4 linked regions of the Homo sapiens genome follow. The protein of the gene in region 2 interacts with the protein of the main gene of each other region in a pairwise test. Each region holds a gene or a part of one and is shown on either strand. Other genes may lie near its edges.

Region 1 (7,716 bases), on a different chromosome or scaffold from region 2:
CCTTCCTCTCTCGTTCCTGCCCGGCCTTGCCCTTTGCTCTCAGCCCTCCTATGTGGGCACCGGGCTCCCCAGCCAAGCAGGGACCCTCCTCCCTTTCTCTGCAGGGATCTACAAGGGCTTCTGTCTGGATGTGATCAGGAATAAGTACGAATGTGAGCTGCAGGGAGCCAAACAGCACCTGGAGGTGGGCCTGATTGGGCACACTGGGGGTGAGGCAGGGCACAAAGCCTGAAGTGGCCTCACCCCATCCGTCCTGCTGAGCTATTGCCCCCTCTTCCAGAGTGAGAAGCTGCTGCTCTATGACACGCTGCAGGGGGAGCTGCAGGAGCGGATCCAGAGGCTGGAGGAGGACCGCCAGAGCCTGGACCTCAGCTCTGGTAAGCGCGAGAGCCTGGGCACCCCGGAACTGGGCCCCGCTCAGTCCACGCCCACCCCTCTTTGGGCTTCAGATGTCCTGAAGTCAAGGGGACAGCCAGAGGACCTGCCTGTTGGGGTCAGTGTGAGGGCTGAAGGAGACCAGGCCTGGAAAGGGCCTGGCACATAATGGGGGCTCAAGCAGAGTGGGTCTCCCTGCCTCTTCTGCCCCTGCTCTTTCCAAAACAGGTATCAGTGTGACATGCAGTCACATGCAATAGCTCTAGTCCCCTCCATGTTCATAGTACCTGTGTTCACGTGGAGTCCTGGGGTGGCAGGAATTGTCGTCATCCCACTCTCCACTAAACAGATGAGGCTCACAGAAGTGCAGTGACCTCTTCCCAGGGTTGTGCAGCTGTGCAGGCAGGACCTGAACAGCCCTAAGGGGCTTCTACCCCAAGCCCAGGGTGGTGATGGGACAGGGGAGATGAGGCCAGGCCGGCCCATGGTGGAGGCAGAGGCTACAGAAAAGGGAGTATCCTGTGGGCCAGCACCCCAATTCTAACTCTGGGTCTCGGGGCAGAATGGTGGGATGACAAACTGCACGCCAGAGGCAGCTCCAGGTCTTGGGACTCCCTGCCGCCCAGCAAGAGGAAGAAGGCACCTCTGGTTTCTGGTATCCTTTCACCCAAGGTGGCCTAAAAGTGGGCAGGATGTAAGGGTCAACTCCAGACCCAGGGGAGGGGGTTGGAGGGGACATGGAGGACAGTCACACTAGATGCACTCGTGGTTGCTTGGTGTCATGTGAATATGTCCAGGCAAATCCAGCTGTCAGCAGTTTCTTACGGGGTCCTGGGTCTCTCTGGGCTATGTGAACCCTAGGAAAACAGAAACGGGCTGGGCTCCGTGGCTCACATCTACAGTCCCAGCACTTTGGGAGGCCAAGGCGGGTAGATTGCTCGGGCCCAGGAGTTCTTTTCGAGACCAGCTTGGGCAACATGGTGAAACCCATCTCTAGAAAAAATAACAAAAATTAGCCAGGCGTGGTGGTGTGCACCTATAGTCCCAGCTACTCTGAAGGCTGAGGTAAGAGGATTGCTTGAGCCTGAGAGATCAAGGCTGCAGTGAGCCGTGATGGTGCCACTGCACTTGAGCCTGAGTGAGGTTTGGCCTTTGAGGCCTTTCCATCTCCCGGGGTTGTCCGAGCGGGTCCCCAGCTTTCCCTGGGGAGCCTTTGCTCATATCCCACCCTCCTCTTGGAAGTCCTGCCTGTCCCGACTGTCCAGGGCTCATCTCAAACGTTACCTCCTCTGTGAGGCCTCTTCTGGTCTTACCCTGGTGCCTATGGCTTCACTTTCCTGTGTGCTTCTGTGCCCTACCATGGGGTACCCACATCCCAGAGGGCACTGGCTGCCTCCACCCCTTCCTAGGCAGGGCTAGCTTAAGCTTAGTCCAGGGCCTGCTGTGCTTTCATCTGTCCTGGCAGAGCTGAGTCCTCCTGCACCCCTGAGGGTATTCCTGCAGCAGCCAGTCTTAGTCATTATGGCAACCTGGTGCTGGAGAGCAGGCCCAGGCAGGGAGGGAGGAATCTGGAAGGCCATGACTTGAGTGAATGGAAGGTGAAGGCATGGAGACATCAAGTAGGGAGCACTGGGGGAGGGAGAGTTGTCTCTGAAGGGATAAGCCCTGCGTCTGTCTTTGGATCAGGGAAGGGGCCAGGTTAGGGCCAGTGCTGCAGAGTGAGATGGGATGGGCCTCAGCCAGCTGACCTAAGACGAGGTGAGGGTGAGCAAGGGACAGGGAACAACATTTGGTGTCCTCCATAGACTTGGTTCCAGGACGACCCCTGGAACCAGGGGGTTAAGAGGTAGGAGGTGGAACCTGACCTCGGACCCAGGTCCTCAGCTCCCACTCCATGCTGTCCGCTGTACCCCCACTCCTGAATGTCAGGTGGGTGGCCCTGCCCTCGTCACCTGCCACCTCCACTAGGCTTCCTTGACCCCCACCACAGGCCCATACATCGTGTACATGCTTCAAGAGATCGACATCCTGGAGGACTGGACAGCCATCAAAAAGGTGGGGGCCGCTGCTGCCCACGTGACCTGCCCCACCTCAGGGCCCCCCACCCTGGCAGCAGCTCTGCCATCTGCAGGCCTGGGAGTTCTCTGCTCACCAAGGCTTCCCCATCTTCAGCCCAGAGTCCCTGGATCGCAGTTGGCTCACAAGTCCTCTTGCTCAAGGCGGCCCTGGGAAAAGGGATTTCTAGTCTGTGTCAGCCCCTTCCCGTTCTGGGGCAGGTTTTGATGGGGTGGGAGGGTGGCGGGGAGGCGGGAGAGCCGCTGAGCTGGCCAGCAGTCAGGAGCATGGGAGCTCTGCCTGGGTGGGGCCTATGCTCCCGGTCCTGGGGGCACAGCACTGAGGCAACAGCCCACAAGCCACAGAGGTGGGGGGTGGGGCAGGGATTGCCAAGCTGGAGGTGGGCTCTCAGGGGAGCTTTTCTTCTCACCCACCCAGGCTAGGGCAGCTGTGTCCCCTCAGAAGAGAAAATCGGATGGTAAGAACCATGGCTGTTGCATGGCCTTCCCTGCCCCCTTGCCATCACCTTTCCTCAGCTCAGCTTCCAGGAAGGAGCCCAGAGAAAGGCTGTGACTGTGTCAGAATCAGTGGCTCAAGAAAGTTAGGATGGTCTAGATTTGAGGGGCTTGTGGGAGTTTGAGGAGCAGGAACCAGGATGGGGCTGGGGAAGCTCTGGGTTGATGGAGCTCCCACTCAGGAGGGGTCAGGGAGGGCTGTGGAGCTGCCCAGGAGGCCTGTTCTGGGCCAGCCCAAAGCCACTCAGTAAGTGGCTGCCTCCTTCCTTTCAGCTTCCTAACTGGTGACAGTTTTCTTCTTCCCACATATGCACAGGACCTTGACCCTGCTGTTCACAGCCAGGGGGACCCTCAGAGCAGCTGGCACTGCACCCAGGATTCTCGTCTTCCTCCTGCAGACAGGCGGACCCACAGGCCCCTCAGGGTCTGCCCAGCCAGGCTCCTGTGGTGCTGCTGGGCCCTCCCACTCCATCTGGCACTGGCCTGGACTCCTCCTCTGCCCTCCTCGAGGCCTGCACAGCTGTGGCCGTGGAGCTGACCTGACCAGGCAAGGCTGCTGTCTCCATCCCTGAGCCGCCTGCCACCTCCCACTCCTGAAGATCCATCTCTTGGGGCTCCCCTGACAGAGAAGACAGCCGAAGTCAAAGCCACATCCTCTTGCTGATGTTGGATGCAGGCTGTCCGGCCTCAGGGCCAGGGAGCCAGTTTCCACTGTGCGGGAACTCTGAGTCAGACGTGATTATCTGGGGGTCTGTCCACCCTGGCTGGATCTGGAGGCAAGATGCCAGGCCCCCCAGGTGTTCTCAGGGCAGTTCTTGGTGTCTGCTTCTCAGATTCCAAGGACTGGAATTAAAACCTTTCCTGGGACTCTGGCGTGCCCTGTGTGTGTGTGTGATTTACCTTGCAAGAGAATCAGGGCTCCCGTGGGGAGCACCTGAACCAGGCCGACTTCTAGGGTGCCTGCAGATTGCCACTCCTCACACTACCCAGCAGAGGCTAGAGCACTGTGCGTGGGGCCAGGCTGGGGAGGGGGAGGTGGGCGCTGGGCTGCCTGGCGCTGGGCAGAGTCAACATATGGCACCGGGAGAGTGCCTCGGCGGGGAGGGTGGATGCGTGTGCTTGGAGCCTGGGTCATGTCTGCACCTGTCCCAGTTGCCTGGCAGATTGGCAAGGCAGGCTGGCAGAGCCTGCGTGCGTGGGAGGCAGCCGGCAGCACCGCCATGTGCTGACGACCTCACAGCCAGACTCCCCCTGGTTAGCACTGAGTGTCAGAACCACCCCCAGAACCTCAGTTAAGCAAATAGGTTGGTTTCCATGGAGACATGGCATATTTTCTCCATGGCAACCTAAAATCCTAAAACCCAGGTTCAGGAATGAGTCATCTATGGACAGTAGAGGGTGCTCTCCCACAAGGCTGACCTGAGGCCAGGGGCAGATGAGCAACTGACCACAGAGCCAAAGGTGCCCCCAGAGCATGGCTGGGGCCTGTGGGGACTGAGGCCGCTTAACCACTTCCCGCCCACGTGTGCAATGTGAGTAGCTGGTGAGGCTGCAGGAGGCCGTGTGTGGAGGTGGCATCCCCCAGCTGGGGCCCTCAGAGCAGGGCTAGCATGGAGGGGACCCCTGACCCCCAAAGCAGGGTCCAGAACAGAGGAGGCGGGCACTGGCCAGGCAGGGTGGACACACAAGAGTTAACTGGCGGGTGTGACAGGCGGACCGCCCTCAGGAAGTGTTACTCACTGGGGATGTGCGTGCCTTGCCTTGGGACTGGATTCTCTTCCTGAAGCGAAGGAGCTCCCAGCCATGGAAAGCCCTGGAGAGTCAGGCGCGGGCTCTCCTGGAGCCCCCAGCCCGTCCAGCTTCACTACTGGGCACCTGGCGAGAGAAAAGTTAGTGAAGTTGGCAGGGCAGCCAGGTGGGGCAGGGAGGGGCTGCGAGAGGAGGGCCTATCCGGGGATAGAGAAAGTGGGAAACCCGGGAGTGGGGAAGAGGAGAGCAAGGGTCCCAGCCCCTGGCTCCCTGCTCAGATCTGGGTGCCTGCCCCCAGGCCAGCCCAGGACCCACTGTATGACGTGCCCAATGCCAGCGGCGGGCAGGCAGGCGGGCCGCAGCGGCCGGGGCGCGTTGTGAGCCTGCGGGAGCGCCTGCTGCTCACCCGGCCCGTGTGGCTGCAGCTGCAAGCCAACGCAGCGGCCGCACTGCACATGCTGAGGACCGAGCCCCCGGGGGTGAGTCTTGCCCCACACTCCAGGGACTGGCCAGCCAGGGGTGGGAGGGAGAGGGATGGGACGCCAAGGTCCTGAGCTGCCTGAGCCCTATCCACTTGCAGACGTTCCTCGTGCGGAAATCTAACACCCGCCAGTGCCAGGCCCTGTGCATGCGGTTGCCTGAAGCCAGTGGCCCCTCCTTCGTCTCCAGCCACTACATCCTGGAGAGCCCTGGCGGTGAGGGGCTGGCCTGGCGGGAAGGGGCTGGAAGCAGGGAGGTTCCCCAGAGAAGCACCTCACTTCCCTCCTCTCTCAGGCGTCTCCTTGGAGGGCTCGGAGCTCATGTTCCCAGACCTAGTCCAGCTCATCTGTGCCTACTGCCACACCCGGTGAGTCTGCCCGCAGGGTGCCTGGTGTCCACGGGCCCTGCTCCTTGGGACAGCCCATCCTTCCCGCCCTCTTCGGCCCTCACTCCCTTCTGCTCCCCTCTCTGGCCTCAGGGACATCCTTCTCCTCCCGCTGCAGCTCCCCAGAGCCATCCACCACGCAGCCACTCACAAAGAGCTGGAGGCCATCTCCCATCTGGGCATTGGTAAGGGCTTCCTGCCACCCATTGCACAGATGAACAAGCTGAGGCCGAGGGGAAGGCAAGGCTCGCAGCACACCGCCCGAAGCCCCTGCCTTGCCTTGGTTGGGAAACTTCCCCTAACCAGTCCCGGAGGCCCCAGTCGGTTTCTTGTTCCCTAGAGTTCTGGAGCTCCTCCCTCAACATCAAGGCTCAGCGGGGCCCGGCTGGAGGCCCAGTGTTGCCCCAGCTGAAGGCCCGGTCCCCTCAAGAGCTGGACCAGGGCACCGGAGCCGCCTTGTGCTTCTTCAACCCCCTGTTCCCGGGGGACCTAGGGCCCACCAAGCGGGAGAAATTCAAGAGAAGCTTCAAAGTGCGCGTGTCCACAGAGACCTCCAGCCCCCTGTCTCCACCTGCCGTGCCACCTCCCCCCGTCCCCGTGCTGCCAGGGGCAGTCCCCAGCCAGACAGAGCGGCTGCCCCCTTGCCAGCTGCTACGGAGGGAGAGCTCAGTGGGGTACCGCGTGCCAGCAGGCAGTGGCCCTAGCCTTCCGCCTATGCCCTCCCTCCAAGAGGTGGACTGCGGCTCCCCCAGCAGCTCCGAGGAGGAGGGGGTGCCAGGGTCCCGGGGGAGCCCAGCGACCTCACCCCACCTGGGCCGCCGACGACCTCTGCTTCGGTCCATGAGCGCCGCCTTCTGCTCCCTACTGGCACCGGAGCGGCAGGTGGGCCGGGCTGCGGCAGCACTGATGCAGGACCGACACACAGCCGCGGGCCAGCTGGTGCAGGACCTACTGACCCAGGTGCGGGCTGGGCCCGAGCCCCAGGAGCTGCAGGGCATCCGTCAGGCGCTGAGCCGGGCCCGGGCCATGCTGAGTGCGGAGCTGGGCCCTGAGAAGCTGCTGTCGCCTAAGAGGCTGGGTGAGGCTCCGTCTCTCCATAGCTCCAGCACTGCCCCATCCGACCCTCTGCTCCCCTCCACAGCGCCAGCCTGTCTGATTCTGTTCTGCTGCTTTACAAATCCATCTTGTCTTACCACTGTTCGAGAGAGTTCCATCCCCTCTCTCCCCCAACTCTTCCGTCTCACCCAGGCTACCTCCTCCTGCTTTCCTTGCCTCTCCTCCCCGATTCTACCCCTGCTCCCTTCTCCCCTTGCCTCTGCCCCCCATACCCCCAGTCTTCCCCTGACCCCTCCCTGTCCCTCCGGCAGAACATGTCCTGGAGAAGTCATTGCATTGCTCTGTGCTCAAGCCTCTCCGGCCCATCCTGGCAGCCCGCCTGCGGCGCCGGCTTGCCGCAGACGGCTCCCTGGGCCGCCTAGCTGAGGGCCTCCGCCTGGCCCGGGCCCAGGGCCCCGGAGCCTTCGGGTCCCACCTGAGCCTGCCCTCCCCAGTAGAGTTGGAGCAAGTGCGCCAGAAGCTGCTGCAGCTGCTCCGCACCTACTCACCCAGCGCCCAGGTCAAGCGGCTCCTGCAGGCCTGCAAGCTGCTCTACATGGCCCTGAGGACCCAGGAAGGTATGTCCCTGCCACCACCTCACCCTGCCCTGCCCCTTTGAGTCAGAGGCGGGCCCCCCAGCGGCAGGTCCCCAGGACCCTAGAACAGCCCTGCAGGAGAGAATGAGCCCACCCTCCCCTCTTGCAGATGGCGAAACTGAGGCCTAGAGAGGAGCGCATCCTTTCTGAAGCCCCTCAATGGTTGCTAGGGCATGGGGAGGGGTCACTGCCTAAAGCAAGGACTGTACCTGAAGCTTCTTCCTCTCACCATGTCCCCACAGGGGAGGGCGCGGGTGCCGACGAGTTCCTGCCTCTGCTGAGCCTCGTCTTGGCCCACTGTGACCTTCCTGAGCTGCTGCTGGAGGCCGAGTACATGTCGGAGCTGCTGGAGCCCAGCCTGCTTACTGGAGAGGGTGAGGGACCCCCACCCACCTCCCTGTCTGGGTGGGCCCTGAATAAGCAGGGAAGGGGAGAGGGGATGGGGTGCCCCACACCCAGCCTGAGC
Region 2 (7,035 bases):
GCTCACCCACTGGAAGATGTTGCCGGGCCGGGCCTGTGGGCAGGTCTTTGCTGGGCTCCTAGATGCCTGGGGTCTGCAGAGGAGGTACACGAGGAAAGCATTGAAGGTGGGAGGAGACAGGCCGTGACTGGGGCTGAGGGTGCCTGGGTGATTATTTAGAGTTTCAGCACCACCCCCTTGCTCCTGGGTGGATGGTGGGGGCAGGGTGGTTGGTGCTCAGGGACACTGAACGCGGGCATTGCCCTCAGAGCTTTACGACATTTACTACATCTTCAAAACAACTCCGAGTAGGTGATGATCTCATCTTATAGATGAGGAAAGGGAGGCCCAGAGAAATCCCGGCCAGGGAGTGGCAGAGCGCGCGTTCCCCGTGCAAGCTGAGGCTGTTAATTACCACCTACCGGGGGATTTGAAGTGCTCTGGAAATGAGCTATAAAAACCTCTCAGGTTGAACTGAGCCAACTGGAGAGCCCCAAAGCCAGGCGGGGCTGCGAGTCCCAGCCCCAGGGAGGGGCGGACGCAGGCGCAGGGCTATGGCAGGCAGGTGGGCCCGCATCCCCTCACCTCTGGGTGGCTCCTCGAAGGTCCAGTCCAGCTGCAAGTCTGCAGGAGCAGAAGGGACCAGGTCATGGGACGGGGCAGAAAGCAAGGGCAGGGTGCCCTGGGAGGCAACCTCAGCCGCTCCCAACATCCCTAGAGTAGGGGGCTGAGGGCTGAGTCAGGGCCTGAAGAATGTCCCAAGGGAGGGAAGGAATTAGGAGGGCAGCTCTCTGGAGGGCTTGAAATGCCTCTGGCAGGCTTGGGGCCTAAGCGAGCCAAGCGGGCAGCCGCCTTGCCCAAGCCCTCCTGCTCCTCCCTCCCTGTTCCCACACACACCCTCTCCTGACCTTTGTGGACTTGCCCTCACCACTCAGGCTGGGGAAACTCGACTTGCACCCTCTTCCAAACGCTTTCCTTCCCCATTTGCCAAGACCCACTCCTAGCTCCTCAAGGTGCCTGGGAATTTCTGGGGCTTCCTGGAAAGAGCTACTGACCCACTGCTCCCCACGGCGCGTGCGCGCGCGCACACACACACACACACACACACACACACACACACACACACGCATGCGCTGCAACGGCACCTGCCTAAACGCCAGCCACATCACCCCTCACTGGACCCCACACCCTCCTCTGACTCCTGGATTTGTCTGCTTTCCCCCATAGTAAACTGTAACCAGTGACCATAAAGACCACACCATCTCCAATCCCCCTACTCCCCGTCTCCCTAAACAGGCTTTTGCTCACCACTGCCCAACCACTCACTCTTATCAAGGATGCTGGTGACCTCCACGTTGCCAAATCTGACAGTCAATTCTAAGTATTCATCTTACTCAACCCATCAGCTGCATTTGTCACCACTGGTCACATTTTTCTTTTGGAATTCCCTTTCCACTTGGCCCCAGGGAGATCTCTCCGTTTTCCTCCTACCTCCCTGGCTCTACCTTCTCAGTTGCCTTTTTGGTTCCGCCTCATCTCTCAAACTTCTAAGCATCCAGGTGCGTGGGGGCTCAGTCCTGGGGTCTGTTTGTCTCTCTATCTCCCTAGGTGATCTTGTCTAGTCTTATGGATTGTTGTTTTTCAGAGACGGGATCATGCTATGTTGCCCAAGCTGGACTTGAATTCCTGGGCTCCCAGGAATTGAATTGAACTCCTCAGCCTGCCAAATAGCTGAGACTGCAGGTGTGTGCCACCACACCCAGCTAGTCTTAAGGCTTTTAAAACGCCATCTATTCCCATGTTTCACAATCTTGGCTGCTAGTTAAAAGTTTAAAGTTTCCCCACTAGAATTACTGGGGAAACTTTAAATCAAAATCTCTCTCTTCTTTTTTTTTTTTTTTTGAGACTGAGTCACCCAGGCTGGAGTGCAGTGGGGTGATCTCAGCTCACTGCAACCTCTGCCTCTCAGGTTCAAGCAATTCTCCTGCCTCAGCCTCTGGAGTAGCTAGGATTACAGGTGCACACCACCATGCCCAACTAATTTTGGTATATTTGATAGAGACAGGGTTTCGCCATGTTGGCCAGGCTGGTCCCAAAATCTCTTTTGAATGAGTCCCAGGTATTTCCATCTGCAGTTTTAGACCTTGTCCCGTGAACTGCAGACTTGGATATTCATCTGCTTACTCAACCTCTTCACTCAGAGGGAACATGTGTCTAAAACTGAACACCTCTTTTCTTTTTTTCTTTTTTTTTTTAGAGACAGCGTCTTGCTCTATTGCCCAGGCTGGAGTGCAGTGGAATGGTCTCAGCTCACTGCAACCTCCGCCTCCCAGGTTCAAGCAATTCTCCTGCCTCAGCTTCTCGAGTAGCTGGGATTACAGGTGCATGCCGCCACATCCAGCTACTTTTTTGTATTTTTTAGTAGAGATGGGGTTTCACCATGTTGCCCAGGCTGGTCTCGAACTCCTAAGCTCAGGCAATCCACCCACCTTGGCCTCCCAAAGTGCTAGGATTACAGGCGTGAGCCACCGCGCCCGGCCTGTGAATGCTACTCCTACAGTCTTTTCTGTTTTGACAAATGGCAACTCCAATCTTCAACTTGCTGAGGTTTAAAACCATCCTTGACTCTCTCTTCCAAGCCACGTCCAATCCATCAGCAAATTCCAGTGACTGCAGTGTATTCAGAGTCTCATCCTGTCCCACCAGGGCCACTGCTACCGCCCTGGTCTAACACACGATTATCTCTCCCCTGGATTGAAGCAAAGTTGTAAAGGTGGCCTTTTCTCCCTAGCCCTTACCAGGCAAGGGAACTGGTTCCACCATTCCTTTCCCACCCCACAGCCAGGCACAATCTTTTCAGCCATTACTTGTCAGAGCATGGCACTCTTCCGCTCAGTGGCTCCTCCTTATTTGCACCGTAAAAGCTGAAGTCCTTATAATGGCCCACAAGGCCCCACGTACCCTGACACCACCACCTCTCTGACTCCATCTCCCACCACATGCTCCTCGCTCCAGGCCAGGCTCTCCTTGCCCGTCCAGAACATGCTTCTACCTCTGGGTCTTCGGAGCTCCCTTTGCTGGAATGCTTCCCCCAGCTCTGCCAGGCCGACTCCTTCACTCCCTCCATGGTCTGATCAAACACCGCTTACAAATGACCTTCCTGGCCGCTCCTGGGTGAAGGAGCAGCCTCCCTGCATGGGGCACTCTCCCAGTCTGGCTTTATTTTTCCCTAGCCCTTTCCACCATCTGTCATGTCAAAGGTGTGTCTGTTTATTGTGTGACTTCCTTTGATCTTTGGCACCTAGAATAGTGCTCAGCATGTGGTACATGCTCAATAGATGGTCAAGGACTCACTGAATGGATGGGTGACCTCGGAGCCAGCTCATAGGCACCCCCAGGGTTGGCTGCATTTTGAGTTGTGGAAGAAAGCAATGCCTCCAGTAAGGGAATGACCGCTAACAGTGGCATTCCAGCTTGGCAGGGAAATCAGAGAGGGACTTAAGGAAAGGAATGGCTTCTCAGTCCCCTCAGAGGACACTGTGGGACAGTGGCTGGTCAATGTTCTTCTTGGGGATGCTCTGGAGACCGCTGCTGGCCCCGAGTACAGGGAGGGGACTGCCTATTTTCAGGACTACTCATTAGAGCCTGGGAGAAGGTGGAGAAGAACCCCTTGAGCAGCTAAGTCCCCTTTTCTTTCCCTGTCTCTCCAAGCCCCAGGGGCCAGAATCCACTTTGGCAGGGAGAGGGCCCTGGAAGGGTATCTTACCTGGCATTTTCCGGTGAATCTGCTGGAACATTCTCCGGTACCAGTCTCTGGGTCTGTCAACGCTCTGGGATCAGAAAATGCAAAGTCAGTCCTCCCTGCTTATTCACCCTCCCAATTTCAAGCCACAAAAATCTTTCCCTAGTGAGTCCCTTCTCTGGCCATCCCTGAACCCCCCATAGGTGGGCTGGGAAATGCTTCTCTTGCGATCTCTTTAATAACAATAGCTTCATGTAACACGTCCTATATAAGTAAGATATATGACAAGATCTCCATCGAAGTGTATGCAATAATGATGTTATGAGATTTGGGGCAATTTACATTTTTTCTCTTTGCTTTTCTTTATGTCTAGTGTTTCTACAAAGAACATTTTTCTTTTGTGGGGAGACAGGGTCTCCTGTGTCACACAGGCTGGAGTGCAGTGGCATGATCATAGCTCACTGCAGCCTCCAATTCCTGGGCTCAAGCAATCATCCTGCCTCAGCCTCCTGAGTAGCTGGAACTACAGTCGTGCACCACCTTGCCTAGCTAATTTTATTTTATTTTTTTTTTTATAGAGACAGGGTCTCACTATGTTGCCCAGGCTGGTCTGGAACTCTTGGTTTCAAGCAATCCTCCCGCCTTGACCTCCCAAAGTGCTGGGATTACAGGCGTGAGTCACTGCACCTGGGCCAAAAATGACAGCAATAATGTAGGAGTGAGATGCGTGTTTCACATCACCTGCTTCATCCAAGCCTCAAAACAGCCTCAAAACAGGAAGGGAATGTTACCAGCTCCAATTTCCAGATGAGAAAATGGAGCTGGCTCAAGACACAAAGGTGGATGGAAAAGGGCAGGGTATCCCCAGTCCTAACTGGACCCCCGGATCCTTCCACGCTTGCCACAGTGAGAGACCTTCTCACACAAGACTCACTCACTCATTCGGCCGGTCAGTCATTCATTCAGCAACCATTTCATGAGCGTCGTGACAGGCCCTGGGGATATGAAACTAAGAGAGGGTCCCCTGCAGCCTCAGGCCTTACAGCAGGGGTTCTCTACCTTTGAGGCCCTGATGAGAGTTCTAGATCTGTACCCCGCACAAACCACTTGAGCAACTCAGGCACACGAGGGTGTCTGCAGCTTTATGAGGTTTACAGCCGCTGAACCCCACCACGGTTGAACCCCTGCTTAATCTGGGATGGTTTGGGTGCGGCCTTTATTGCCCCACCCCCATTTTAATGCACAGAAGTGCAGCTCCCTGTAGATCCCTGGGCCCCATCTCTCCGTGGCCCCCAGCCCTGGACTCACGGATCGGGGGGCAATGGGCATGCCGCTCTCGTCCACGGGCCCGATTCCCTCGTACTTGACCCAGCGCTTGTCCCGACGCTTGCTGTCCTTGGTCCACGTGGCTGACCAGTTCTGGGTGTGCTGGGAGGCAGGGATCTTTGTGCTTGCAGAGGGCTTGCTCCCAGGGCCTGGCCAGGTCTGATACCACGCAGGGTCTGTTGGGTGCGTGCAGGAGAGCATTAGTGAAAGGCAGGGGTCTCCACCTGAACCTGTGTGTCCCTTAGCTCCTCAGAGCATGGATCTCTGTGGGTTCAAAGTTTCAACATCGCCTTGTTTGTTTGAGTGGATGACTCAGAGCACCACGGGCCTCTGTTTGTTTAAGTGAATTTAAATGGATTTGATCTTGAGAATGCCGTGCCTGGCCCTACCCCCATCCTTCTTTCCTGGGACTATCCTAAGTGCTTTCAGAATAAGGTCTGGAAATCATTACTTGTAGAGAATGCAGGGGACATCCCAGCTGGGGTGTGGCAGTAAAGATGCTGGGCTTAGAGGGGACAGACTTGAATTCAGACCCCAGCTCTACCACCTATTGGCTGCCATGGCCTGGGGTACATCAGTCACCTTCTCAGTGTCTCAGTTTCCACTTCTGTAAAACAAGGGTCATTGTGACAAGGATTCAGTGACATCTAGCGTGTGTGACTGTACCCAGCACAGTGCCTGGCACACAGTCGAGAGGCTCTCAGTGAAGGTCAGAAACCCATTCCCCAGACATGGTTGTGACTGAGTCCTCAACTTACCCATAAGTGTTAGCCTCTAAGTAGCTAGGGCAGCAGAATAAGGGCTTTGAGGCCAGATGTACAAGTGTGTGAATTGCAGCTCAGCCTCTATGGCTGAACATCTCTGCGAATGGGGTTCCTTACTGGGAAGCTGTCAGTCATCATCACCCCTACTTTGTCAGGATATCGAGGGGTTAAACGAGGTGAGCCTCGTAAAGTGTTTTTACAGTGTCCAGCACGCTCTGGGTGTTCCATAATTGTGTGGGTGTTTTTTTTGGTTTTGTTTTGTTTTTGTTTTTGTTTTGAGACAGTTTTGCTCTTGTTGCCCAGGCTGGAGTGCAGTGGCACGATCTCAGCTCACTGCAACCTCCACCTCCCAGGTTCAAGTGATTCTCCTGCCTCAACCTCCCAAGTAGCTGGGATTTCAGGCACCCGCCACCACACCCAGCAAATTTTTGTATTTTTATTAGAGATGGGGTTTCACCATGTTGGCCAGGCTGGTCTCGAACTCCTGACCTCAGGTCATCCACACACCTCAGCCTCTCAGTGTGTGTGTGTTTTAAGTGACAGGGTCTTGCTGTGTCATCCAGGCTGATAGAGACAGGGTCTTGCTATGTTGCCCAGGCTGGATAATTGTTAAATGAATAAATTCCTTTACACAGCACCTGTCTTAGGGGAATGCTTGATAAAGGATGTCACTTTAGGAGAGACATGTTCAGGGCTGGCCTGCACCCAGGAGTTCCCAGGACCTCTGGACTGGGATCTAGAACTGCCTCTCTAACCTCCTGCTGGGTAGCCTGTTGGGCCTGAATGGGACAGTCTCCACCCCTTCCCAAGCCAACAGATACCCACATCACCTCCACCCTTCCATCCCCAGTCCCTGTGGGAGGTCCTCCGGCGCCCAGGGCTCCTGCACGCTTCCTTTCCCTGGCACCAGGCTGGAGGGCAGGGGAAGGGATGCATCAGCCTGCTCTCCCCAAGCGGGTGTCTCTTGCAGAGTCAGCAGGCTCCGCAGGGAGGGGCTCATAGTGAGCCCAGAGGCCTCTGAGGAACCTCCTCATGGCCTTGAGAACCCCATCTCCAGCTGCTGCCCCTCCCGCTTGACACAGGGCAGTGCCAGATGGCAGGGCCCTGACCCTCCATCTCCAGCATGAGGCTCCTGAGCAGACCTACCCGGGTGCTGGGAAGCATCTCGTCTTGGTGTGTAGCCCCCATTGCACACAGTCCTGGGCGCGGGGTCGTGGAACTGGA
Region 3 (3,061 bases), 3.2 Mb from region 2:
AAAGATCACCCAGTTGAATCATATTTTTTTTTGTTCAGAAGCAAAAACTGAGGCTCAGAGACAAACTGTCCTGTCCAAGATTATACAGAAAATGGTAGGAAGAGTTGAGAAGTTTCTCAATAATGCCATGACTGTTGAATCATAGGAACAAAAGCCAAGAGATGGATCCTTACAATAGTTTAACAATATAAACCACATGGAACATTTCAAGAAAGAGTTAAACAATGATCTATGTTTAAAAGCTATCTCTACCTGGCATAGTATCTCACATCTATAATCCTAGCACTTTGGGGGTTTGAGGCAGGAGGATCGCTTGAGGCTGAAGTGAGCTGTGATCGCACTACTGCATGCCAGCCAGGGTGTCAGAACAAGACTCTGTCTCTAAAAATAATAATCACCATCATCTTTCTCATTAGAACACACATGCCAACCATCCCCTTCTCTGGCTACATTTTATAGTCAATGAGTGCTGTACGCAACCAACAAGCTTGTAACAACACTGCTGTATCATTCTGCTTTTATTAGAAGGCAATGTAAAAGAGTATTGACCTACACAGTTAGGCCAGAGGTACTAGCCAATCTCCATCCTCCAAGAAAAATGATCTCCAGTGGCTCAGAGCCACCTCAGTCCCTGTCCAGAGGCCGTTCGCCTGACTGGGACTGGACTGAGGTGGGCGGGGGTTCCAGGAGGGCATAAGATTCCTGACGGGACAAATATGTGTGCCAGGGCTAAACAGAACTGGCTGGAATGTTTTTCTTACCTCCCATTTCTACTTCATTATGAAAATGGTGGACTGGGCAGCAGTGAATGGGTCGATCTTGTGTGTCAGGTTATGTAATTACATAAACGACTGTATTAGCTTTCTGGGGCTATAGTAACAAGTCAGCATGAACTCAGCATGAACTAAGCAGCTTAAAACAACAGACATTTATTCTTCCAGTTCTGGAGTCTGGAATTCTGAAGTCAGGGCCATGCTTCCTTCTAAGGCTTGTGGGGAACCTGTCCCATGCCTCTCTGCTGGCTTCTGCTGGTGGCCGGAGATCCTTGGTGTCCCTTCCCTTCCGGCTGCATCACTCCAACTTGCCTCTTGTCCCCTGGTCTTCTTCCCACTGCATTTGTGTCTATTACCAAAACTCTCTCTTCTCCTAAGGATGCCAGTCATTGGATTTGGGGCCCACCCTAATCCAATGTGACCTCATCTTGACTATATCTGCAAAGACCCTATTTCCAAACAAGGTCCCATTCACGGGGATGGGGGTTAAGACTTCACCATATATTTTGGGGGAACACAATTCAACCACAAGTAGCATCCAAACAGCCTGCTTATTCTGTTCTTGTCTAAGCACTTCTGATAAAAAATAAAAAAATACATGTACAGATGCTTTATCCTTTTGGTGCACTATAGAGTATATCCAGGGGAGGCCAGGCCAGCCCCGGCCCCATTCTCCCGAACAAGAAAACAAACTCAGCGATGTTTGCTCACTTTCCTGCAGGTCCATCTGTATTTTCATGCATGTTAAGCCTCTCATTCAATTTACATTCATGACTTCTGTTTTTCTATGTCTCTCATGTCCTGGTTCCAACATGTACAATAAGTGAGGTGTGTTTTAAGCATCATCTCAGCCAGGAAAGGCTTTTGCTACCATTCCAAAGCCAACATGAAACTTCGAAACTTCATGTCAACAGGCCCCTGAAACCTCCTGAGATGATACAGAGGGAGTGCAGGGGTCATATGATAGATATTCGTTTTCAAGTACACCTTAATTTCTAAAAGTTTTCCATTTCTTCATTTGTTTTATTTTATGTACATCATTAAGGTCATACCCTTCATGACAGGTACTTGCTGAAATTGAGACTCTTCTCCCTTTTGAGCAGAGGTCATTTTCTCTTGACATTGAATTCCAGTATTTGTGCAGAAAAGAGGTGTCAATGAGGACTCCATGGATACTTTACTTTCAGTTGATCAGTATTGGCTCTGCTGCAGGGTGATTTTGGCTTCACACATAAATGTTGCAGTGGCATTTGTCCAGGGGAAAGCCCGCTTGGAGGCTGTAGGATGACCCTGATGGAGGCTGTCACTCAAACAGCTCCAGGTAGTCAGGCAGCTGGTCCTGCTGACCACAGGGATAGAGAAGGAGCTCCTTCCCCAGGGAAGTGATGGGTTCCTCCTGTCAATCAGAAGGCACGGGGTCAGATAGTGTAAGTAGTGACCACATGCTCTTCCTACTTCCTCAGAGGACATCACTAGCTGCCTACCCATGATTTACACAAAGCTTTTGTGGTTTATGATCATCTTAAAAGGCATTTTTCTTATCTACATGTGACCAGGTACTCCTTTCCCTTCAGGGCTTGAATTCTAACTTAAGGCCTATGAATTCTCATAGGTCAGGGGTCCCCAACCCCAGGGCCATGGACCAGTACCAGTCTGTGGCCTGTTAGAACTGGGCTGTATAGCAGGAGGTGAGCAGTGGAGTGAAGCTTCATCTGTATTTACATCTGCTCCCTGTCATTCACATTATCGCCTGAGCTCTGCCTCCTGTCAGATCAGTAGCAGCATTAGATTTTCATAGGAACACAAACCTTATTGTGAACTGTGCATGGGAGGGATCTCAGTTGTGCGCTCCTTAGGAAAATCTAATGCCTGATGATCTGTCACAGTCCCCCATCACCTCCAGATGGGACTGTCTAGTTGCAGGAAAACAAGTTCGGGGCTCCCACTGATTCTACACTATGTTGAACTGTATAATTATTTCATTATATATAACAATGTAATAATAAAATGCACAATCAATGTAATGTGCTTAAATCATCCTGAAACCATCCCCCAACACTGAGTCCATGGAGAAATTGTCATCCAGGAAACTGGTGTCACAAAGTTTGGGGATTGCTGTCATATGTGATCCATGTGGGTACAGCTTTTATTTTTTTGTTTTAGCATTTCCCGTATTCTCTGCCCCAGTGGGGTTCCCTGAGTATTTAAGGAAGAACTAGGTTCTAAGATAAATGAAATGTGATTAACAATCCTGATTATCAGGAAGAATTATCAAAGACAAGCCCCCA
Region 4 (6,889 bases), on a different chromosome or scaffold from region 2:
TACTGGCACTAGCATGCTTAAGGCCATGTTGCCATGTTTATCTTCAGATTTTTTAACTGCTAAGATAAAATCCATTTGCCTTTTTATTTTGACCCAGTGTTTACAATTAGCTAAGGACACGAGCCTCTTTAGATAGTAATAAATACTCAGCTGGCTGGGCACAGTGGCTCATGTCTGTAATCCCAGCACTTTGGGACGCCGAGGCGGGTGGATCACGAGATCAGGAGTTCAAGACCAGACTGGCCAATATGGTGACACCCTGTCTCTACTAAAAATACAAAAATTAGCCGGGCATGGTGGCATGCCCCTGTAGTTCCAGCTACTCAGGAGGCTGAGGCAGAAGGATCACTTGAACCTGGGAGGCGGAGGTTGCAGTGAGCTGAGATTGCGCCACTGCACTCCAGCCTGGGTGACAGAGCAAGACTCCCATCTCAAAAATAAATAAATAAATACTCAGCTATATGATTCTTATGTCATACTTGAAAGATAGAGTATCTTCTCTCTCATTTGGACATAGAAGAAAACTGAATTTAAAATTTGCCAAAGCCAGAAATCAACTTCTCAGTCTCCTCTCATATCCAGCATTCTTATTTCGATTTTCTTCCCTTGCACTTCTTGGAATTTTGAACTTCAAGGCACTCCACCAGGAATGAGGAGACCTGGATTCTATTCTTGGAATGGCCACTAAGTGGCTTTGTGACCTTGAGCAGATGAGTTACTCTCAGGGCCTCTTCCCTCAACTGTAAAATGAGAAGGTTAGCTAGATGATTTCAGAAGTTCTTTCTGGCTCTAAAATTCTGTAAGTCTGGAAACACCTGCTAGTGACATTTATGCACGCATTAGTTCTCTTTTACCCTTTTTAAAATGTTTTTGATTGTGCCTTAATATTATTATTAATATAGATCTTTTCCATTTCTTTTTAGAATTTTCTTTTTTGTTTCTTGACAGCAGGCAGTGTTTCTACATTTATTTTCCATTAAGTGTTATTATGTACATTTCTTTACATATCTGTTATACATTGAAATAAGATTAGTATGTCATAAGGTATGAATGATGTAATTCTTTCTAAAACATAGGGCAATCATTTGTGAATTTCATATTTGAAGATTTAAATGTTCAAATGGTTTAAAGAAAAACTGCATTACAAAACAAATTGCATTTTTTTCATAAGATTTTCAGTCATTCTGACACCTGCTTGAAAACCTCAGGCAGTTCAAGATGTCTGAATGTAACTGTAGGGCTGAGTATACCAGCATCAGTCTTTTAAATGCATTCATTTTATGTATATAATTGTGGTAAATTTTCTTTTAAAAGTTTTCTTAAAAAACAAAAAGTTTTCAAGGGAAAATATCAAAAGCTGTGCTGAACATTTCTTGACTTTGCACCGTATCACCTAATTGACTTACTTTCTGTCTTTTGGGTATGAAATATGGCCTGGAAATTATATATTTTATATAAATAACATATAATATAAATTATATATATATAAACTTCAACAGAAAAAGTTGGTAAATACTAGAATAAGTGGTAAACTTGGAGTAAACTTTTTGTCAAAGATTTTCATTATTATTTGATTCTGTGTACAATTTAAGATCAGCTTTACCATGACAAGAAGCAGATGAAGCACTTGAATCTGATATACATTGAAATAAATTAGTATGTCATCAGGTATGAATGACATAATTCTTTCTAAAACATAGGGCAATTATTTGTGATTGCCCTGGGACAATCACACTGGGACAGCCATTAAAAGAGATTGAAATGGGTACTACTGAGTGACACTTAGGAAGTATAGTCCAACCTAACATCTCTTGTAACTTAGACACATACTATCTGAATTTTCGATAGGATTTACAAAATAGTCTTAGTTTGATTTACAAGTGATACATAGAAGTTAAGAAGTTTGGAGTAGAAGAAAAGGTAAAGGAAACAATGTTTTTTGTTTTGTTTCTCTGAGACAGAGTCTTGCTCTGTCAACCAGGCTGGAGTGCAGGAATGCCATCTCTGCTTACTACAACCTCTGCCTCCCGGGTTCAAGCAATTCTCCTGCCTCAGCCTCCCTAGTAGCTGGGATTACAGGCCTGAGCCACCACAGCCGGCTAATTTTTTTATTTTTAGTAGACACAGGGTTTCACCATGTTGGCCAGGCTTGTCTCGAACTCCTGACCCCATGTGATCCACCTGCCTCCGCCTCCAGAAGTGCTGGGATTACAGGTGTGAGCAACCACACCCGGCCAGAAACAATGTTAAGACAATTCTGTATTGATGTTTTTGTGCAACTCCCTCCTCCCTTTCCCTCTCTCAAAGAATCTTCTTCCTAGCCTCATAAGCATGGAGGCAGACATGAGCTACCCTTTATTGTGTGCTTGGCGCTATATATATTCCCTCATATTCTTATGGCCTCTTAAAGTAAATATAATTATGTCTTTAAGGAAGAATCAGGGTCTGCAAGATCACACAGATAAGTGGTGGCAGCAGAATTGAAACTTAGATCTCTATGACAAAATTCCATGGTTTGCAATCAGACAAAACAGTTCAAACCCGTTTCCTCCACATGGGTGCATTTCTATGAACTTTTGCATGATGCTTTACCACAATGAGCCTTGCTTGGGTTTTATCAGTAAGATCAGATTATCAGTATCTAGAGACAGAATTGCTCTGAGGGTGAACTCAGATAAAGGTCTGTTCAAAGTACTTAGCACAGAACCTTGCAGAGGGTTGCCCCTCAGTGAATAATCACTATTATTACTATAACTATCACTGTTATTGTTGTTATTGCTGTTGAGATTATGATGTCAGGCTTTCCAGACACAGAGTATGGTTTCATTTGATTGTCCTACATGTATTAAAGTCCTACTGTGAGCAGGTTACTATTACTAAACTTTAGCTCCTCATGAAATGTTTATCTGGAAGCAGGTGAAAATAATGTGAGTGAATATGTATTACTTTAAAGACCACACCAGGGAAGCTCTTCAGACTTGAAGATAAGACCTTATTGTTTAAACTTGTGTATTTGCTAAGTTAGGCAAAAAATTGCTCTAGAGACTTTTTTGACTAAATTAAACCAAATATCATCAGATGCATGTGTGTACAAAGCCACAATAAACCTGAAAATGTCGCTGGGGAGGCAAGATCTCCTAGCATTTCAGAACAGGCTGATTTGATCATGATTTAGAGAGCTTTTCCATACACTTAGGCTGCTTTCTCTTCCTATGGCTGCAGCACACTTTAGTGGAAAATAAGCCCATAGGTATCTCATTTTTGGGGTGTGTGTGTGTGTGTGTTTTGTCCTCCCACAATAAGAAATCTCATCCTTTCCCATGGGCTCTGATTTTCTCTAACGTAAAGACATCGCTACTACTGTAGATAAAAGCAACACACTGTCAGAATCACAGAGAGCTAAGAGGTTGGACTTTATGTTCCATTTCTATTTTATTTGAAGATAGAAGTTTGATAACTTTCACAGATCTTTTGAGAGTGCATAATATATATAATTATGCTACACATATTGTTCTGCCACATCCAGATGCAAACTTCTAAAGGTGCAGCAGAGTACATCCTGCCACCAGCTGAGAAGGAGAAAGAATTATGGAAGGAGGGAGATAATTCTTGCCTATAAAAAAATGAGTTTACTTTCCTAATAAAATAAATCTAAAATTGGCCATTGTCATTGTATGATGTTAACAACCAGCTCTTTTGGCAAGTTTGAAAATACTGGGCTCCATTATAAAAGCTAAAAATGTCCTGGACCTGGAGTTGTTTACCCAGAGCATGAGCTGCTCTAAAGTTACAGAGCTCTGGTTGGAAGAGGTGGCTTGAAGGCCGCCTCCAAGTAACTGACGTCACAGTAGTCTCAGCTGCTGCTGTGACACTAAGCTGAGCAGCTTTTTGACTTGTAAAAGTGGTGAAGGTTTCAAAGGGACTTGTCAGTACTGCTCTGTGGAATGGTTGGACTTATTTTGCATCCCCTTTTCTTGTAAAGAATCGAGATTCACCGAGCTGAGACTTTTCTCTTTAAGACAGCTAGCCATCCACTTTCTTCCACTGCTAATTGACCAGTGGTCGAGCATCCATAGGATTTCTCCCCAGTGTGAAAGGTATGTTTCTTTCCGGCAAGTTTACAAGCAAGTGACTAATTATGGCAGGATACAAAGGGGCTGCTGTTGAGATGTTTTAAACTATGGATACTGTTTAAGTGGAGTGTAATTTCAACATCTGTCTCTGCTGTTGTCTGTGTCTGGGCTTAAAAACAGTGGGCGGGGTGCATAACAGATTGTACTGACTCCTAGGAAAAAGGCTGTTCAGCTGCTCAGGGTGGATTTCCCAACTGTGGACTGACAGTACCATCCGCTCTTTGAGACTGTTTTTCCAACACTGCTTCTCAGTTGTTTGAAAAGCACTTTGCCCATCATTGATTTTCACTAAGTATATTTATTCAAATGTGATTTTTTTTATTCATATAAAGACTTTTAACATTTGCAAATTAAAGGTCACAATCCTGGAGACTTGGTATTTGAAAATTGCGGTGAAAAATAAATTTTAGTTTTATCTAAGGTGGTGGTGGACTCACTGTAGAGTTAGTGTTTCTGTAATTTGAGCTGAAGTCTATGCCATTCATAATTGAATAATCTACGTTTAGGAGGGAAACTTACCACTATGTCTTTTGTTCACGATGGTTAGTTTTAGACATTTGTTTACTCAAACCAAATGTTTGCTTTTAAAGTTTGCATTTTATAAGTAAAATCAGTGTGCATACAGCTTGGATGTTTTCTAATTTGAGTAAATAACTGTAAAGAAAACAAGGAAGAAGATAATTAAATGAAACGGTAAAGTTGATTCATTCGGAATTGCATGTGGTAGTGTCTCTTTGACCTTGTTGGAGCATGAGGAATGTGCTAAATCAGCAATACACAGCAATGAAAAAAATTTCCCTTTTACTCTAACAAAATCAAATCATGGTGGTCTTTGGAAAGATTCAATTGCAAGTGAACAATAGAGAGGAATGAGATTTATTAATTCATTGAAATAATTCAAGTGATTATAATAGCCTGGAGAAAGGGATAGAGAATTTAGGAGGTAAATGGTACATTACTCTGATAGGTTATAAGCTGGGGAATTCCTAATCCATCAAAGTTAAGCAGAAGCAAAACATCTTCAGGCCAAATGAGTCTTCTAGGAATTGTGAGATTAGCAGTACCTACTGTGTGTGGCATTTCTATTGGAATATGTAACCTCTTATAAATGAAAAATCTTTAATTATGTGAAAAGTGATATGTTTAGCAAAAGGAAATAAGGACAGCAAGAAACAAGTACTCTAAACAATAATCTAAAAAGAGAGAAGTAGCAATGGAGCAGCTGCCCCTAAGGAACGCTGTTTAGTTTGTTTGGATGCAGTCCAGTTTTCAATGGGCGAGTTGGAGGTTGAAAGGGTAGTGACCCAGGTGTCCTAAGAATGGAGCACCCCTCAGAGAAAGAATTGCTGCCATGACCAAACTGAGGCTAATTTGGGGGTGAAAATAATTTCTTGTGAGACTTGTGTGTTACTCTTAAACTTTGCTTACTGGTAGGGCCGGAAGGCTAGCAGAACTATTTGCCTCCCATCACCATACTTATGCAACCCACTCACAACTCTTTATAATTCTGGCTTTCAGCCCTGGAAAGGGGAAGTAAGTTAAAAGGGATTATGCAATGCTGGTTTAGAGTTGGGGTGTGTGACTAAGTAATGCAGCTCACTCTGTCCTCTTACATTTGCTCTAATAAATTTTTATTCTGAAATGGAATTCTAGAAGGAAGAACATAAACTGGAGAGCCAAAGAGATATGGGGTAGGGGATGCAGATAGCAGAAATCCTTCCTTCTCTCCCACATAGATGCCAGTATCTGTGGGAGAAAATGAGTGACAACTAGGAACAAAAAGAACTTTTATTTTTGCCCCAGTAGAGAGCACTTAAATTGAGTTTTTGAATCTGCTGAACCACTTTACCCCATAACTTCTCATTACGAAACATTCTATCTCTACAAAGTTGCCCCTTCAGTTTGATATTTTTTGTAATATTTAAGTCAGATTTATAACAAAAGCAGTTTTACATAAGATTTGTTCACATTTTTATTAACAATAAAACTTTTTTCTTTAAATATGTGACATGTATCTTTAAAATATTTGAAAAAAGGCAAAAGAAGATCATGGAGAATATGAGAGTTCACACAATTACACTTGCTTCTATCTCGTTTTAAAATAAAGACCAAAATAATCTGTTTTTTTTCCAGAGAACAACATGGAGAGGGATAGATGGAGAAAGAGAGGAGAAAGGGAAGGAGGGAGGAAAGACAAGAAGAGGAAGGGAGGGAACAAAGGACAGAAGGAAGAAAACAAGAACCAAGTATTTTTCAGGCATTTGCTATGATCCAGAGCAGTGTTTAGGCACTTCTTTTAAGCATTTTTCCCTTTTGCTCACTTAATCTCCAAAACAATTCTATGCCCCCCCCCCACCACTTTATATTTAGAGGTGGAAGCAATATGTTTGGCTGCGTTACATCTAACATTATATTTACGACAAGACTGAGATGCTAAGAAGGCCAAATCCTTCCACAAAAAATTGGCACAGATATTGCTCTATAGAAATGTTCTTGCAAAGGCTTGTTTCTGATCCATAACTATTACATTTCTTGGCACTAGCAATTGCTCTGGGCCTGGAAAGGAAAAGCTCCATACATTGGTCCTTCTCCATATTAAGGGATGAGTTTGGCTCTTTGCAAATAGGTGCAGGATTCGGTCTGCTTCAGGACTGTTACCTGGGTTTAGATATAGTCTTGTTATCAAGAGCAAGACTGATCTAGGGTATTCCTGAATGATCTTCCGGTAGGTTAAAAAGAGAAAGGCCTGGCATCTT

The links.
Region 1: the proteins of SORBS3 (region 2) and RIN1 interact in binary tests that used the Homo sapiens proteins (3 or more experiments, as listed by UniProt).
Region 3: the proteins of SORBS3 (region 2) and SH2D4A interact in binary tests that used the Homo sapiens proteins (3 or more experiments, as listed by UniProt).
Region 4: the proteins of SORBS3 (region 2) and KIAA0408 interact in binary tests that used the Homo sapiens proteins (3 or more experiments, as listed by UniProt).

The regions. Positions count from the first base shown.
Region 1 is NC_000011.10:66,333,435-66,341,150, reverse strand, and holds the start of RIN1 (ras and Rab interactor 1), read left to right. Parts: upstream 1-4,716; 5' UTR 4,717-4,748; coding exon 4,749-4,834; exon of another isoform or gene 4,835-4,860; intron 4,861-4,992; coding exon 4,993-5,173; intron 5,174-5,274; coding exon 5,275-5,389; intron 5,390-5,468; coding exon 5,469-5,541; intron 5,542-5,652; coding exon 5,653-5,744; intron 5,745-5,899; coding exon 5,900-6,637; intron 6,638-6,926; coding exon 6,927-7,232; intron 7,233-7,492; coding exon 7,493-7,624; intron 7,625-7,716. Other genes in the region: BRMS1 (breast cancer metastasis-suppressor 1), read left to right, coding at 105-184, 281-377, 938-1,030, 2,366-2,430, 3,262-3,483. UniProt on the Homo sapiens protein: Ras effector protein, which may serve as an inhibitory modulator of neuronal plasticity in aversive memory formation. Can affect Ras signaling at different levels. First, by competing with RAF1 protein for binding to activated Ras.
Region 2 is NC_000008.11:22,554,903-22,561,937, reverse strand, and holds part of SORBS3 (vinexin), read right to left. Parts: coding exon 6,958-7,035; intron 5,224-6,957; coding exon 5,030-5,223; intron 3,810-5,029; coding exon 3,746-3,809; intron 604-3,745; coding exon 565-603; intron 74-564; coding exon 7-73; intron 1-6. UniProt on the Homo sapiens protein: Vinexin alpha isoform promotes up-regulation of actin stress fiber formation. Vinexin beta isoform plays a role in cell spreading and enhances the activation of JNK/SAPK in response to EGF stimulation by using its third SH3 domain.
Region 3 is NC_000008.11:19,393,658-19,396,718, reverse strand, and holds the end of SH2D4A (SH2 domain-containing protein 4A), read right to left. Parts: intron 2,170-3,061; coding exon 2,077-2,169; 3' UTR 501-2,076; downstream 1-500. UniProt on the Homo sapiens protein: Inhibits estrogen-induced cell proliferation by competing with PLCG for binding to ESR1, blocking the effect of estrogen on PLCG and repressing estrogen-induced proliferation. May play a role in T-cell development and function.
Region 4 is NC_000006.12:127,456,383-127,463,271, reverse strand, and holds the start of KIAA0408 (uncharacterized protein KIAA0408), read left to right. Parts: upstream 1-3,882; 5' UTR 3,883-4,097; intron 4,098-6,889.